Regions from separate parts of the Homo sapiens genome. Here region 1 is linked to region 2. Evidence: fine-mapped expression QTL. A gene starts in region 2. The other region holds a variant in brackets. All regions are shown on one strand. Distances are between the middles of the regions.

Region 1 (8,292 bases), 110 kb after region 2:
CATGGGTACACATGCATACGTCTCATGGAAAAGATATCATGAAGTGTACAGCTTTCTGTAGGTGACAAAGCATTTTTGCGTTTGTTATCTGACTCCACACTCCACATAAGGTTGCCAGATTTAACAAATAAAGTCATGAGACACACAGTTAAATTTGAGCAATATTTGGGACATGCGTACTGAAAAAAATCATCATTTATCTGACATTCAAATGTAACTGGACTTTCTGTATTTTATCTGGCAACCCTAACTCTACAACCCTCAGAAGTAGACAATATTAGCGTCCCCATTTGATCACTGAGGCTGAGAAAGTAAATTGCCTAAAGTCAATAAAGGATCAAAGGGTGAAAGAACTGCCCCTTTGCCCATTCACTGGTTGCTGGGAGAATGATCACTCCTGGATCTCATCTTCAGGCATCAGATGTGCTGGGGCCAAGTGTGGGGATCTCAGGGCAAGGAGGGAGGGGAGAAATGGAGGGACTGGCCATCATGAGTAGTGGACTACAAAGACTTCATAACAGAGGGCAGGGGCAGGGAGGTGTTGATGCTTTGTTGCAACTTAGTTTTGGTTTGCTTACTTTACCAGGGCCTGGGCACCCCAGCCAACAGGCTGGAAATGCAGGAAGCCATCTGGAGCCATGTGCTGAGTCACAGGGCCCAGAGAAAAACAAGAACATCGTGACGTCAGAGCAGGGGTGGGGAGAAATCTCCCTCGAGATCTCCGTGGGCACCGGAAATAGAAACTGCTCCCTTTGAAGCATCTATTAGAAGATCCAAGTCTCTAACAGATCACCATGAGATTTCAATTCAGTTCCTATTAAGCACCAACTGAACGCATGTGAGAATGTCAGGGAATCAGTTGGTGAAGAGGCAACCGTTTTAATTTAATTTTATTTATTTGAACAGAGTAAGCCTCTGTTCAATCCTGACTCATCTTCTTTCTTCTCTTACTACCCATTTGCCCTTGAGCAGTTCACTTAAACTTTCTGACCCCATTTCCTCTTCAGTAATAATAATTCTTGTCTCATTGAGATAGTGTGAGGGCTTAAAGGGAATTACATTTTTCAAAAGCATCTTGCACAGATCTGGCACAGTCAGTGGTAGGTCTTCTTAGCATAAGGATATAAAAAGATCTTTCTGTAAGGTTGGTGTGGGGATTAAATTGGATGACATATCTTTACTTTCAAGCAAGCTCTGGACTGAGCTCTTACTAAGGTTTCAGCTAAGGAGAGAGATTTCTTTCCTCCTCTCTAGACACTGGGGTAACTGGTTCTGGTCCCCCAGTGTTCTGGTTAGTAGAACTAAATACGTACACGCACAATGAATGTTTACACAACATCCGCTCATTCCATTCCACAAATATTTCTTTTAACATTGTACACATTACTGGCTCAGCCTTTGTAGAGGTCTAGAAAAACAAAATTAGGATGAATATCCCCATTTTGTTGCTGTTTTTTGTTTTTGTTTTTGTTTTTTAAGACGGAGTTTCACTCTGTCACCGAGGCTGAAGTGCAGTGGTGCCATCTCGGCTCACTGCAAGCTCCACGTCTCGGGTTCAAGCAATTCTCCTGCCTCAGCCTCCCAAATAGCTGGGACCACAGGGGCACACCATCTCGGGTGGCTAATTTTTTGTATTTTAGTAGAGACGATGTTTCACCATGTTGCCAAAGCTAATCACGAACTCCTGAGCTTAGGCAATCTGCCCGCCTCAGCCTCCCAAAGTGCTGGGATTGCAGGCATGAGCCACCGCTCCCGGCCTGCTGCTGATTTTTTAATAATCATTCTGTGGGAGGCACTATGCTAAGTATTTTGCATGCATCGAATTCTTGGAGCAATCTTTTCAAATTCGTGCTATAGTAACCCCCATTTTATAGATGGAGCAACTGAGGCTCAGTAGAGTTGACTGTGCTGCCCAAATGCACAGAACTAGTGGGTGGCAGAGTTGAGGCTCAATCCCAGCCCTGATTATCTCAAAGGTTCTGACTGTCACACTATGCGTGAGCTCCCAGAGAGAGAAAAACACTCAGTTGAAAATTTAGAGTTACTCATGCACAAAGGTATATAAACAACACAAAGTGGTTAGATGGGCAAATGCTGACGGAGAGGCTGGTAATCAGAGTTATGGGCAGTTCTGGGCTGGGAGATCTCCCTGAGAGCTGTACTATGAAAAGGGGCTTTCTAGAAGGTGAAAGTTTAGGTGGGGAGTAAAGCTAGACCTTGAAAAATGATGTGGAACAGGTAACAAAGCAAAGGCACGTTGAGCAGAGGCCCAGATGGTTTGGCCAAATATGGGCTGAGCTTAGTGAAGGTCAGGTAACCAAGGCAAGGTGTGCTTTGGAGAACAAAAGGAGGAAGGTTGAGCTGGCACAGTCTGGCTGGCTGGTATTAGCTTCTTGAATGATAAGCTCTTCAGCCTGGCTGGGGTGACTTCTAACTTCGGAACATCACTGCTTAGGGGATTCCTGTGTATCACACATTGGGCCTGAGCAGCAGAGCTAGGAGTTGTTCCTGTTATTGGAAAGGGAGGAAGTTTCTGCAGAGTAAGTGGGCATGATCTGTCTTGCTGGAGGGCCTCAACCTTTACTCTCCTGGGTAAGAGGAGACAATGATATTTCCATGGTCTTCAGAGCATTCTGCTGAGAAGCCCACAAGCTAAGGGCCATTACAGCAAACTCAGAGATGATACAACCTTTCTGCAGACCATGGTAATATATATGAAGAGGATTAAAACGATGTAACCCTTTGTTCCCTCAATTTTACTGCTAGGAATTAATCCAAGGGAAGTGGTCATGGAGAGATGAGAAAATGTGTGTATGGACAAAGATGGTCACTGTAGAATGTAGTATTAACTTACAAACACAAGAATCAGAAATGTCCCACCTAGTCAGTAATGGGGGCTTAGTTAAAAATTATGATCCAGGCCGGGTGCAGTGGCTCATGGCTGTAATCCCAGCACTTTTGGAGGCTGAGGCAGGCAGATCACCTGAGGTCAGGAATTCGAGCCAATATGGTGAAACCCCGTCTCTACAAAAATTAGCCTGGCATGATGGTGTGTGCCTATAATCCCAGCTATTCAGGAGGCTGAGGCACAAGAATCACTTGAACCTGGGAGGCAGAGGTTGCAGTGAGCAGAGATCGTGCCACTGCACTCCAGCCTGGGTGATAGAGTGAGATTCAGTCTCAAAAAAAAAAAAAAAAAGAAAAGAAAAGAAATTTTGATCCACCCATACAAGGGAATGCTACACTTCCATTCAAAGTCAAGGTGGTCACACCATAGCAGGGAAAAATCAGTTATAAAAACATTAAATATAGTATGATCCTAGCTCACAAGTACATTAATCCAATTCATTCACTTATTAACTATGTAATGAAGATGTGCTGTATGCCAAGCACCATTCTGGGTACTGGGAATATGGACAGGAACAAGCTCAGGGTGGGAAGTTGTTTAGGGAAAGACAGGTAATACATATATGGACTTAAGAATACACAAGATAATTTCTGAGCATGGCACACAATGCCATGAAGAAAGGCATGCAAGATGGACTAGTTTAGTGTGCGTGAAGATGGAGGGACTATCCAAGGAGGTGACATTTCGGCCATGACTTGCACGCTGAAAAAAAAAAAATCCAGTCATGATTTCCAGAGTCATGAAATCCAGAGCATTTCAGGCAAAGAGGCGAAGGCCTTGAGGGGAAATGCCATTGGTGTATTAGGAGGGAAAAAGAAAGAGAAATAATGTGTGAGTAGAGAGAGAAGAGGTAGGAGAGGCAAGCAGGGCCAGATCACACAGACTGAAAGTCAAGGTGAAGTGTTGATAAGGAGTGTGGATTTCCTTCCAAGTGCTGTAGAAAGCTACCGGGTTCTATGTAGGCAATCATCATACAGTTGACCTTCAAACAACACAGGTTTGAACTGCACAGGTCCACTTACAGGTGACTTTTCTTCCACCTCTGCCACCCCTGAGAGAGCAGGACCAACCACTCCTTTTCCTCCTCCTCAGCCTACTCGAGTTGATGATGACAAGGGTGAAGACCTTTATGCTGAGTCACTTCTGCGTAGTGAACGTAAATATACTTTCTCTTCCTTATGATTTTCTCAATAACATTTTCTTTACTCTAGCTTCCTTTATTGTAAGAATACAGTATACAATACATATAACATACAAAATATGTTAATTGACTGTTTATGTTCTCAGCAAGGCTTGCAGTCAACAGTAGGCTATCTGTAGTGTTTTGGGGAGTCAAAAGTTGTATGCAGATTTTCAACTCTGAGGGGGGTCAACACCCCAACTTCCATATCGTTCAGGGTTCAACTCTCTTTATGTATCCGGAAGGAAATACACCAACAGGTTAGTAGAGATTATTAACAAGTAGTGGGGTAATAAACCGTGTTTAAAAATCTGTGTGCTATTCTGTAACTCCTGAACTTTTGTAATTAGAAACAAACAGTAATTTCCATTTTTAAAGAACTCACCAGAGAGCAACATCGACAGATGACAACCATCACCTGGAGCTCCAGTTTGAAGAGGCTTTTCCCTGAGCAATCTCTTTTGATTTTCACGATAACCCTGTGAGTGAAGCCAGACCATTGTCATTAAGA[C/T]CTCCATTTTGGAGGTGAGGCAATTGAGGCCGGGAGTTGCAAAGAGGCTGAGGCAGGAAATGACAAAACTGGGACAGGAATCAAGGTTCCACAACACTGGTCTAAGCTTCCTGATTTTGTGGCCCAGCCAGGCTAATGGCTGAGTCTGCATCAAATTCACCCAGAGACCCCAGGGCCCTAACAGGAAGTCTACAAGGTTACTCTCCTGCTTCGGGGAGGGCAGGGATGGACCTAGAGCCCCCAGCTGCCGATGACTGGAACAAAAAGAGGGTCTTTCCCACATAGTAGATGCTCAACAAACATTTGTTGAATTAATGCAATAGCTTGCTTTTGGGGGAAATGCCACCTTGGGGAGGATGGTTTTGCTGACTTTACAATTTAGTAGCTGTGCATCCTCCTCTGTCACTCCCCTCCACAAAGTTGGAGTGTAGGCTCTGGAGCCGGAATGTCTGGGCTTGAATCTGCCTCTACCACTGACCACCAGCTGTGACCTACCCTTTCCACCTCAGTTTTCTGATCTGTAAAGTGGGAGTAATAATGATGGTCTCCTTGGGTTACTGTTTGGATTAAATGAATGAATGAAGGCTTTGAAGAGATGTTGGCATACAGTGTGTGCTCCATAAGCGTCAGAGGTTACTAGCATCAGCATGAAAGGGCTGTTGAAAGGGTGAGGTGAGGCTCCTGGCAGCACAGGCAGAGCTGAGCAGGGTCTCAATGGGTGATGGCTACCGCGGCTGTCCTTCTACCCCCATGACTCCCCTTGCTGGTGCCTCAGTGGTTATTCACAGGAAACATACAGAAATGCACTGCACATCATTTTTTAGAGAAGGGACACCCCTATCCACCAGAAGGGTCCTTTGCCAAGTCAAATAATAGACCTGTACTCTCTCATCTCAGGAGGTTTCTGTCTGTTCAAGGTCACGTGAAGAATTTCCTGGCACTTTCCAGTGTCTCTGACTCTAATTCATTTAAAGAGCCACCTTTTAAATTTCAGGCTTGACATTTGCTTAATAACATGTGTGGAGCCTGCTCTGGTGAGCGGCCCCAGGGTCACCAGCCCATCCCTCTGTCCTCCACTCCTGCTTTCAAACTTCAATGGTTTAAGGTCTACCGATAATTTTGCTATCACTGCATATCATGTGGTCTAGTCTTTCCCTCATTATTTTTCCTCAACTTGTCTCCCATTTAAAACTTAAAATACATTTCTTCAAAAGGAAAACTTACTACCATAGATGGAAAGCCAATCCCACCTGCTACAAATAGAAGCTATCCAGAAAAAGATATACCACGAAAATAAAATGATATTATGAAACTCTAGAATATTTAATTCTAGAGGAATAGGGTTGCCTGTGGAAGACTCTGGGCTTGAGGCCTGTTTGATTCCCATTTGAAAGGGAGATTTGGAGAGGTGTTAAAGTTTGAGGGAGGCGTTAAAGACCTATTAGTACCAAAGTGAGATTTTCTTCTTGGTGTAATGACAAGGATTGAAAGAGAATTTTCACAGGAGAAAAACTCTCTTACCACAGGATGCAATCTATTTGTTTCCCTGTCTTTTCACTTTCCCCTACTCCCCAGGGGCAAGGGGCTCCCTATTGTATGATTCAGTTCTTTATTGAGAAGAGTTAAAGAGAGAGCAGCCCAGCCCCAGCTTCTTGCTTATTATATCATGCAAATAAGATTCTTTCCCTGCTTTGAAATGAGGGAGCCGAATTAGAGAGATGTTCTTCTCAGAGGATCTCCAGGCCCTGAAAGTCTGCGAGGCCCCATCCAAAAGTTCATTTGGCTGCTGTCTTGGTCATTCCAGGCTGCCATAGCAGAATACCATAGACTGGGTGGCTTATAAACTACAGAAATTTATTCCTCGCAGTTTTGGAGGCTGGAAGTTGAAGATCAGTCACTGGCAGTTTGGAATCTGACGAGGGTCTGCTTTGTGGTTCACAGACAGCTCCTTCTTGCTGTGCCCTCACATGGCAGAAGAGGCCAGGCAGCTCTCTGGGGTCTCTTTCTAAGGGCACTAATCTCATCAATGGGGCTCCACCCTCATGACCTAATCACCTCCCAAAGGCCTCCCTACTAATACCATTGCCTGGGGGTTCACTTTCAATATAAGACTGGGTTGGGGGCAGGCAGACAAAAACACTGTCGATAGCACCTGCACATAAACGTGTTCTCATCCGCTCAGCAACAGAGTTGAAACCTATCAAGAGGATGGCCCCGTGGCATGGGTTGTGTAGCTGAATCTTCCTAAGGAGTAAAGACGTAGGATCCATCACATACCCACAAATAAATTCACGTTTCCTGGGGGTGGATTTTCTGCTTGTTGAACTGAGCAGATGGCTGTGCTTGAGACGAAAAAGGAAGTTGCTAAACCCTCTCTCTGCCCAGTGCAGAATTTGGAAAGAAACAACCAAATAACCCGCTCACTTCAGGTTCTGTCCCCTGTTTCAGTAGCCCCTGCGGATTCCTCCTGCAGTGGTTTCCTTATCAGAGTCCCTGGGAGGCGCTGCCAATGCATCATTCCTAAATTACTATGTTTTCATATCTCCTCCCTTCTCCTAAATCAGAGGGGACCTGCCTCATCTGGGTGCTGCATGCTGGTTTCTTAGCCTGATGCTCAAGACCTCATGCAGTGTGATTTCAACCTACAATCCTATGGCAGCCCTGGCTGCTGGGATTTCCTTCCTTGAATCTTCTGCTTCTGACAAGCTGGTTACCTGGCACACAGCAGGCATGAAGAAATGTTTTTGCATGAAAGAATATGCCTTCTGCTGTGCTGCAGTTTGCCTCCGTTCATCTCAACATATATTCCTTGAGTGACCGGGACAACTGGTGCTTGAAGACTTCCTATATGCCAGACACTGGTAGGGTGGGCACTGCTCCAATTTGCCCTGGACTTTCCTGATTTTAGCCCTGGAAGCCATGTCTCAGAAATCCCCCACCCCACCCCAGGCAAATTGGGACAGTTGGTCTTCCTAATAAATTGGGCTCCATGCATTCTATTTTCATGGGACTTCCAACATAGAGTAGATGACATTAAACAAATTATCCCACAAAGAAATGCATAATTATAAACCATGGCAGGTGCAGAGGAGAAGTCAACCCTGAGCTGGGCACTGTGGATATGAAGAGAAAAAGACACAGTCAGGCCTTGGCAAAGCATCCTGCTTGTAACTAGGAGAGAGAGGGACACACAGCTTATTTAATGTAAAGTGGTGAGCACAGTGAATCAGAAACCTACACTCTCTTATCCCTGTTCACATTATACTGTTTCTATTTTAATTGGGGTTTCAAACATTGGAAACCCACTCTGGTGAATTAAATAGAGGTGTATTGAAAGGGCTTTGGAAGGAAAAGCTGAAAAATAGGCCTTGGAAGAGAGAGAAACAATTGCTTCTTAGGGAGTTGAGATAGTCAAAAAATTATGCCAGAACAAAAGAACATGCTTTGTTCCACTTCCATTAGAAAAACTGACTCTAGCCATTCAATGCCCTTGGGTTTCTCTGGCCAATATCCTGATTCCAGGAAGAAAGTATATGGTGGCCAAGCTTGGGTCTCATGCCAGCCCCTTGGCCAGTCTAGCAGGGCACCATAATTAGAAATTCCACCAAAACCGCGTGCAGCTGGGCATGGGGACAGGCAGTTGCTATGGGCAATGGAGGGGCGGGAGCTGGGAAGGTGAAGGCCACAGCTGCC
Region 2 (8,309 bases):
AATATTGCAGAAGAAAGGAATTATTTTAATAGTAATTAAATTGAAGTGCTAATATCTATAAAATTTCTTTCCTAAAATTAATAGTGTTTAAGTTATAAATTATTTTTTTTTGAGACGGGGGTCTCACTATGTTGCCCAAGTTGGTCCCAAACTCCTGGGCTCATGCAATCCTTCTGCCTCAGCCTCCCAAGTAGCTGGGATTACAGGCACGTGCCTGCAAGTTATAAATTTAAATAAGACAAATTTAACCAAGTTACTTATACCAACTTAAAATGATACTTTTTCTCAAAAATAACTAATTCACAAGAATTATTGGTTTTTAAAAAGCAAAAAGAACTGTATCCATTTAAGTAAGAATCACAGTGGTCAGTTTACTTACTTCTTTAGACTTTTTCAAAACCCAATTAGGAGTTTCTTGTCATAGAGATTTTTTTCAAATCATTTATTTCTCTTGTGACTTTCAAATCACCCCACTGCTAGCTCTCTCCTCATACATGTGTGCGTGTGCTCTCTCTCTCTCTCTCTCACACACACACACACACACACACACACACACACACACACAGAGCTACAAATGGTGGGGATGAGGAGCAGAATTAACAATTTACTTTTGAATCTTACCATATTTGAAAGTCAGGTACACTGACCATCCTTTTCCCATAATCAATATAAAAGACAGCAGTTCTAAGGGAAGAGTTAGTTTCTAACAATATATTTTAGTATCAATCTTAGTCTAACTATTATTTCATAAATCAACTTAATCTCCAAAGAAACTGTTCAAAAAGATTTCACACATAACACACACTCTATTAGCCCAATAGGAAAAAATATTAATGTGCATATATGTATATTTTATTCATTGTCTGAACTTTTCATTTTTCCTAAAGCAATCTTAACAAAAGTCAGTAAGCTGAGAATGGGAACCAAACTGTGAGGCCACATAAATTCACTGTGTCAGCATATAGTAGCAAAATAAGAAAAAAAGGTGTATTTAGTTCTGAGCCAAATCTTAATCCAGTTAAAATGTACTGAATGTTAACTTACAATTTTTAAATTAGCAATATAAGAATAATTCATAAAACTTATCTTTGCATTAAATTTTCTTTAAATTTATGTTCAAAGGAATATCAAAGGCAACTTTTTAAAAATAGACTTCATGGGATTGTCAATGTCTTAAACAGCCTTTTTACTTGACCACTAAAGCACAGTAATTGATCTTTGGTTTTAACAACTGAAACCCTTTAAAGCAAATGCCAACAGCTTTTTGATAGGCAAAAAAAAAAAAAAATCGTTTTTAGAAGTCGAAAACTAAATATACCCACATATTTTAAGATGCACTGCACCTGAATCCTTAGGAAAGGAATGACATAGGGTTCTCTTAGCAAACTTCCCCTCCCTCTCAGTCAATTACTAATTAAAACAGATAATTCTGCTAGGGCTAACATCGTATTTGGGAACAGTGCAATGATTCTATAATCTGTTTCAGCCTTTGCAGAAATATTTCTAAAGTAACCCTCTAGCTGTAGCACATGTGTACGTGCACACATGTATGTATACATATTTTCAATCCTTGGGTTTGTTTTTTTTTTTAACTTAGAATTTGTACTCTGACCAGCTGTGTACCCTTGGCTAAGTTATTATATATTTCTCATATTCAATTTCTGCATCTGTAAAATGGGGATAATAACAGAACTCATCTTGTGAGGTTGTTGGGAAAACTAGATTCAATGCTAGATTCTTACCCCTTATAAATTTCCTAAACACATATAATCATACCCTCAAAGTATATACATTTAGTGGAGCATCTGACGTTCAACCACCTATGAAATTCCCTTTATCTAGTTCATATCAACCTAACTTGCTGCTCATTAATTCAAAAACATCAATGACTCTTGCCAGAATAAAGATATTCTGGTAGCAAGAAAGACAAATGATCTTTGCCTGGATCTATTTTTAGGAATGGTTTAATTATCTACATCTTCAATGTTAACATTGGAAAATAAACAAACGGGTGAAAGGCATAAAGAGTCACTCTGAGATGAACAGTTTCACAGTGTTCAAAAATAAATGGGGATGAAGAAAACATTTAGATCATTTCTCTCACTAGATAGTCCTTACTGATGAAAGGTAGGCCAAAATTTGCAGAGGTTTAAGAGGAATTGCCAAGTCCATCAATTCAGGCTGTTCAGACCTACAAGGTTCAGAGAGTTTCCAGGTTTAAAATGCAACCAACCAGTGAGAAAACTGTAATTCAATAGCTGGTTTTCAGTGAATCACTACCTTATAGTGTCAAAAGAAATTTGTTTAGTTATATAGTTACTTCAGAAAACATTCAATAGTTTCTGCAATGAAATATATTTATATCTATATATTATTTATTCTCATCTAAATAGGGAAAAAACTGACCCTGATTCTCATGTCAGGCAAGAAAGGTATTATAGTTAATAATTACTACATCACCAGCTACCAGGTATTCATAATTATCTATGACAAGATTAAGGCTACAATTTAGAAAACTGCCAAAGAAACAGCTGAATATTTTGTTCCAATTACACTCCTGCTAAAATAAAGTCTGGTTATTGATTCATTTTCTCTCTAAGAAAAGCTCTGATGTGAATACGGGCACTTCAAACTCTAGTTACATAGATATTACACCATGCTATTTCCTTATTCATCCTAATCTATTAATGGAACATAATCTTACCGGAAAAGGAAAAATGTTGTCAGCCCTGTTCAAGCTATCTTCCATCCAGGATTTAGGTGCAAAGGCAGAGCTGGGGCGAGCATACTTCTGGAGCTGAATATGATTGCTTGCAAAATTTTTCTTCAAAGGCGAGATGGAGTTCAGGGGCGTTATTCCACCATTCAGCCCTCTGCGGTGATCTCGGCCTTGGGAACCTCCCCAGCCACCATATCCACCACCGCCCGGGCTCCAGGAAGAGGAGGGTGTTGGTGACGGACTCTGGTAGCTGCTCCACGGAGAGGGGGGTTTGTTAAGATTATTCGCCAAATGAGGCAGCTGGTTAAAAGCAGCATTTCTATGTGTGAAGGGTGGGGGATGGGGACTGGCAGGAGACCTCCTTTGCTGCTGATGCTGGCTGTGATGATGCTGGAAATGAGGGTGATGTGGGTGGTGCTGTGAGAGAGGCCCGATCTGAGGAGAGAAGCTGCCTCCAAAGCCAGGGCTGACATGATGGGGGAAATTTTGAAACAACAGAGCACCGTTATTAGCCGAAGCAGCAGGGACCCCTCCCTGGTGAAAGAAACTTGCATCTTCATTGATTATTGTAGAGGAGGAAGGCGCTATCGCTGCTGACCAGTTACTGAAACCAGTAAGAGACGATGCGCTAGATGTCAAGGGTTGGGTTGAAGTACCTAGCCCAGTGGCTTCTTGATAATCAAACCCTGTCAACACTGGAGATTCGATCCTTATTTTCTCCTTCCCATTGCCATTTTCCGAAGAATTGTCCCCTTGATTTTCTTCTGATTTTGCCTTCTCTGTTTCAGGCAGTATTCCAGCTTCCTGACCTGGACTTGGGGAAAGCTGCTGCTTTTCTAAGGGGTCTTGCTGTTCCTGTTGCTGACTTTTTGCTTTTTCTGACCCCAAGATCTCATCCTGAATGTTATGGGTAGCTGGAGCAGGAAAAAGCCAAGCTGACCCAGCACTGCTGCCATTGGCAGCTGTGTTATTATTTATAAAAGCAGCAGGGCTGGGGGTGGCATTTTGGTGATGGTGTGGAGGCTGCAGATGTGGATGGAATCTGACTGGAAAAGCAGATTTATTCCCAGTATTGCTTTGCACTAGCACTCCAAACCCGTAATCCCCCATTTATTATCTTTAGGAGCAGAATCTCACAATAAAAAATGACAACCTGATGTCTCACGCCTTTTTTTTCCTCTACCCCAAATTTAAGTTGTTTGCTTGCTTGCTTGAAATGTCTTATTTATAGCTAGCTCAAAGATCGCAGCTTATCACCTTAAATTGTTCTGATTTGGAATTCTGGTCTCTGAAAGAAAAAACAACTCTTAAAAAAATCTCTTAAAACATTGACTTGGATCCAATTGGGCTTATTTTTAGGAGGGAATAAAAATGAAGAGGGTAAAAATCAAGTCTTTGGTTAGTAAAATAGGCGCTTTCTTTTTCCAAAGGAAAATGTACATGAATGACAAAAACAGAGCTTCTCAAGCATCTATGGATGTAGAAGAATAAGCCTTGCGCGGAGTAAAAATATAGATATATATAATTTAACAATCACATATGGTTTTCCTCAGCAGTTTAGATTCACTCACATAAAAATTAGAATAGGACTAAGAGGGGAATACGTTCTTTTCTTGGCAGCTTGGTTAAAAAAAAATCAGGAATAATTTAAGAACATTATATATTATATATTTATATATATAGATTATATTAGGTTATCTGGGGTGGGAAGTGAATTCCTGGTTTCGGGAGAGGAAATCAGCATTGACTAATGGAAAGATGATTGCAGGGAGGTTTCTGCTGTTCCTGGTCCTGTTTTCTGCTCTTTCGCAGGGTGCAGTTTTGGCCTCTGGGGCTGTTCCTGAGGCTCCGGGTGCAGATCTTGCTGCGGTCGCTGTTCCTGGGCTCCCCGCGGCTTCCTCTCCCCCATGAAAGGGGTTGGAAACACCCGTTTCTCCCTCTTGCGGGGGTCGCGATCAGGAGGGATTAGCGAGACTCGACGAGGGTGAGCGGGCGGCCTGGGGGTGCGGGGACCGAGGGGGCGACCTGGAAGGTCCTGCGGTTTCTGCCTCTTCCCCTCTCTGCGGCTCCGGGGTTTTTTTCCCTCATGGGACCCAGGGGCGGTTTGTTCAGTTCCCTCAGTTCGATTCTCCGCAGAGAGGGAAAAAAGAGGAAAAAAAGGAAAAACCCACTACCGTAGTTATTTTAAAGGAGAAGGGCCTCCCCCCTCGGCTTTCTCTCTCTTTTCCCCCAGAATTTTTTTTTAAACTATAATTTAGAAGGCTTTTGTTTCTCCTCACGGTTGCTGGGCCGTCGCCGCCGTCGCCGCTTTACCCTGGTCCCGCAGTCCCCGCTGTCGTTGTTGAGGACTCCTCCTGGTTCTTCTTTTTCTTTCCTTCTTCCTCCTCTTCCTCCTCTGCTGTCGCCGCTGCTGCCGCCGCCGCCGCCGCCACCGCCTCCCGGTGCCCGGGTCCCGCAGCCGCGGCTGAGTCCTTCTCCTCAGGACCGAGCCGAGTGAAATGACAACCAGCTGGAAAGACCCAGAGACACTTCCGGTTCGAAGAGGGAGGGGTGGGGGTAGCACTCATTCCCCACCTACCTGCCGGAAGACCAATCATCTGTTAGAACTCAGGCGAGGCCACGCCCCCTCGCTTCAGAGCTACTCCCAGGAAGGTCGAAAAGTTACCTCCAGAGACGCCTCTTCCGTCTGCGCCTCGCCTAGTGAGGCCCGGCGCCTGGAACCCGCTTCCCCCACCCAGAGTGAGCGCAGCAGGTCGCCATCTTTTGTGTGGGCAAGGGACTCCTTTGATATTTCTCTTCCCTAACTGGGCTTTGCAGGAGGAGCAATAGGGACGTGTCAAGGAGAACGGATTCCTCGCTCACGAAGGCATACGGTCAAGGTGTTGGAGATCGAAGTGGCGGCCCGTGAAACCGCGGATGAATGAGAAGGGTGCCCACAGTAAAGGTGGTGCTCCAAGCATCACGTGCTCTGGCCCGAGCTCCGCCCCAGAGGGATCTGGAAGGGGAGGCGGGTCTTGCCAGCAGCTGTGCGGTGCCTAGAACTGCGTTTGCCCTTGCCCAGAATGTAGACCTCACGAGGGACTCTCCCTTAACCTTCCATTCGCTCACCCGCACCTCCCACTCTCCCATTCTGCTAGGCTCGCATCTGGTGCAGTCTCCCAGGTGCAGAGATGCAGCTGAGGCGTCTGTGGCTATGCCCCCGTATCATCCCGATCTAGTACACCTTACACGCAATACCAGAGGGAAAATTCCAAAACTAAAATTTTATCTTGACCCTCACATGCTCCGATTTCTTCTATGGTTGCCCATTATTTCGAAGATAAAGGCCAAACTTGTTAGTCTGGTATTCAAGCCTTTCTACCTAATGGGTGGTATATCTTAGTGCCTCTTCCCCCTCCAAACACACTCTCAATGCCTTTTTACATGTCCTTTCCACTCTTCTCCTTTGGTAAATTCCTATTTATTTCTAGGAATCAGTTCAAAAGCCACCAACAGCATCTTCTGAATTCTCTCTTATAAGCGTCCACGGCCCTGTGTACCTCTCGTGCTTGTTTCTCACACTATATTGTGATGGTTTATGTCTTCCAGACCTGTGCTGGACCGTGGGCTCTTTCAGGAGCAGACATTGTAGATAGGAGACATCAGTGAATGAATCCTGAAAACGTGAATGAACAAACCAGCAACAATGAAGTCTTCCCTGAGTGACAGCCCCCCAACCCACTGCCACCCCTTCCACCCGTCACCCACCCCCCACCCCTCACTCCTGTTTCCAAGTCTGAATTAATTATTTCCTTCCTTTTGCCATTTGGTTTGGAGCTCACATATCAGACTTTTCATTATGTTTGGTACTCAAGGGCTTTAATGTCCTGTTTATCTTTGTACATTCCCAACGCTATGACCACCATCAGGGCTTAGGATAATGCTTTGCTCTCAGCACAGCTTTAAATATGTTAAATAAGTGAGTATTTTCCTTTAGCAGGAAGAAAAATGAACAAAGAAATCAGGGTAGAGCCAGAAGTAACTGGCACAACTAGAGGGAAAAAAAAGATACCAAGATTAATGAAAAATAGTATGAACAAAGGTGGCTTCCATTTCATTTCCATAGCCTTCCTCTAATGGTCTCAACTTCTGCCTCAGTCTGTCAATCCTCCATCACTTCCGTGTAGAACACCTGAGGGCCTTCAATCGGTGATTTTATTCTCTTTCATTGTGCCATGAGCATGAGTCTTGTCTCTGTAACTCTACTATGGATTCTTTGAGCATAGAGATTGGGTCTTACCTGCTGTTTATTCCCTACAACTGGACATGCCTGGAAACTTAGCTGGTTCCGTCAGGTGTCTTTTCCGCCAGAATGGTTTCCTTGACTGGCCCTCTCTCTAATGTCTTGTAGATTGCTCTCTTTTAATTACTGCTGGTTGTCAGTGGGTTAGTTTCTTAAGGGCAGAGGTTGTGTCTGATTTATCTTTATGTCCCCAGTGGCCAGAAGAGGGTCTGGCACAGAGCAGACTCAAAACTCAGAACACATTTATTGAATGAACAAATGAATGTTCCATGCCCAGAAGATGGTTTAGGGTCCCTCAGAGCTACTAATTATCAGTGGCTAAAATGGCAGCCATGACTTGGAAAAAAGAGCACCTTTGGAACCAAACAGCCCTGAATTTGAATCCCAGCTCTGCTGCTTCCTAGCTGTGCAAAACTGGGCATCACCTCTATAAGCCCTTGGTTCCTTCTAGATAAAATGTGAATGATATTTCCTCTCTTGCTAAGTTTGTAAATTACATGGGATACATGTGAAGTGCTGGACTCCTAAAAAGTTTTATTAGTCCATTTTCACACTGCTATAAAGAAATGCCCAAGACTGGGTAATTTATAAAGGAAAGAGGTTTAATTGACTCACAGTTCCACGTGACTGGGGAAGCCTCAGGAAACTTACAATCATGCCGGAAGGCGAAGGGGAAGCAAGCACTTTCTTCACAAGGCGGCAGGAGAGACCAGAGTGAAAGAAGAACTGTCAAACACTTATAAAACCATCAGAGCTCATGAGAACTCACTATCAGGAGAACAGCATGGGGAAACTGCCCCCTTGATCCAATCACCTCCCTCTGTCTACACATAAGGATTACAATTTGAGATAAGAGTTGGGTGGGGACACAGAGCCAAACCATATCAGAGGTGATCAAAAATGTCACTTCCTTTGTAACACATTAAATGCAGGGAATTCCTTCACAAGTGTCTTTTGCCTAGAAGCAGCTGTGTGCACAAGGGAATCCAGGAACTTGTCTTGGTTGATAAAAGGTGGAGACGCCCAGGGCCACAGTCAGGTGCTGCCAAGTCGGGCTAATCTTTTAAGGCTAAGTCAGGTGTGGGCAGTAGATTGGGATGGTTTGCAGCTAGGATGATCACTAAGACATCAGACTCTTGCTTAGGGACTGGAAGTATGGAAGAAGGAAGGGGGAAATCTATTATTTTCTTTTCTTTTTTCTTTTTTTTTTTTGGCATCAGTTGCCTACTCAGGAACCCAGGATACCCAGAGCCCAGGGCTGCGCTCCTTGAAAACATTCTGGCCTCAGAAACTTCCCATGGTAACCAT

What was found.
Region 1: its variant is fine-mapped to the expression of CPEB4 in whole blood (INTERVAL, PIP above 0.99).

The regions. Positions count from the first base shown.
Region 1 is chr5:173,774,623-173,782,914 of GRCh38, reverse strand. It overlaps LOC107986482 (a long non-coding RNA gene), which reads right to left and starts at 4,639. Exons shown (of 2, transcript XR_001743004.2): 1 at 4,474-4,639. RefSeq lists a cis regulatory region at 642-652 and enhancers at 575-719, 3,850-4,069, 3,895-4,189, 3,946-5,145. The variant C/T (reference allele first, on the strand shown) is at 4,600.
Region 2 is chr5:173,885,254-173,893,562 of GRCh38, reverse strand. It overlaps CPEB4 (cytoplasmic polyadenylation element binding protein 4), which reads right to left and starts at 5,214. Exons shown (of 10, transcript NM_030627.4): 1 at 2,705-5,214. The coding sequence starts at 3,829. RefSeq lists a silencer at 2,643-2,937 and enhancers at 2,442-2,941, 2,942-3,443, 5,468-5,707.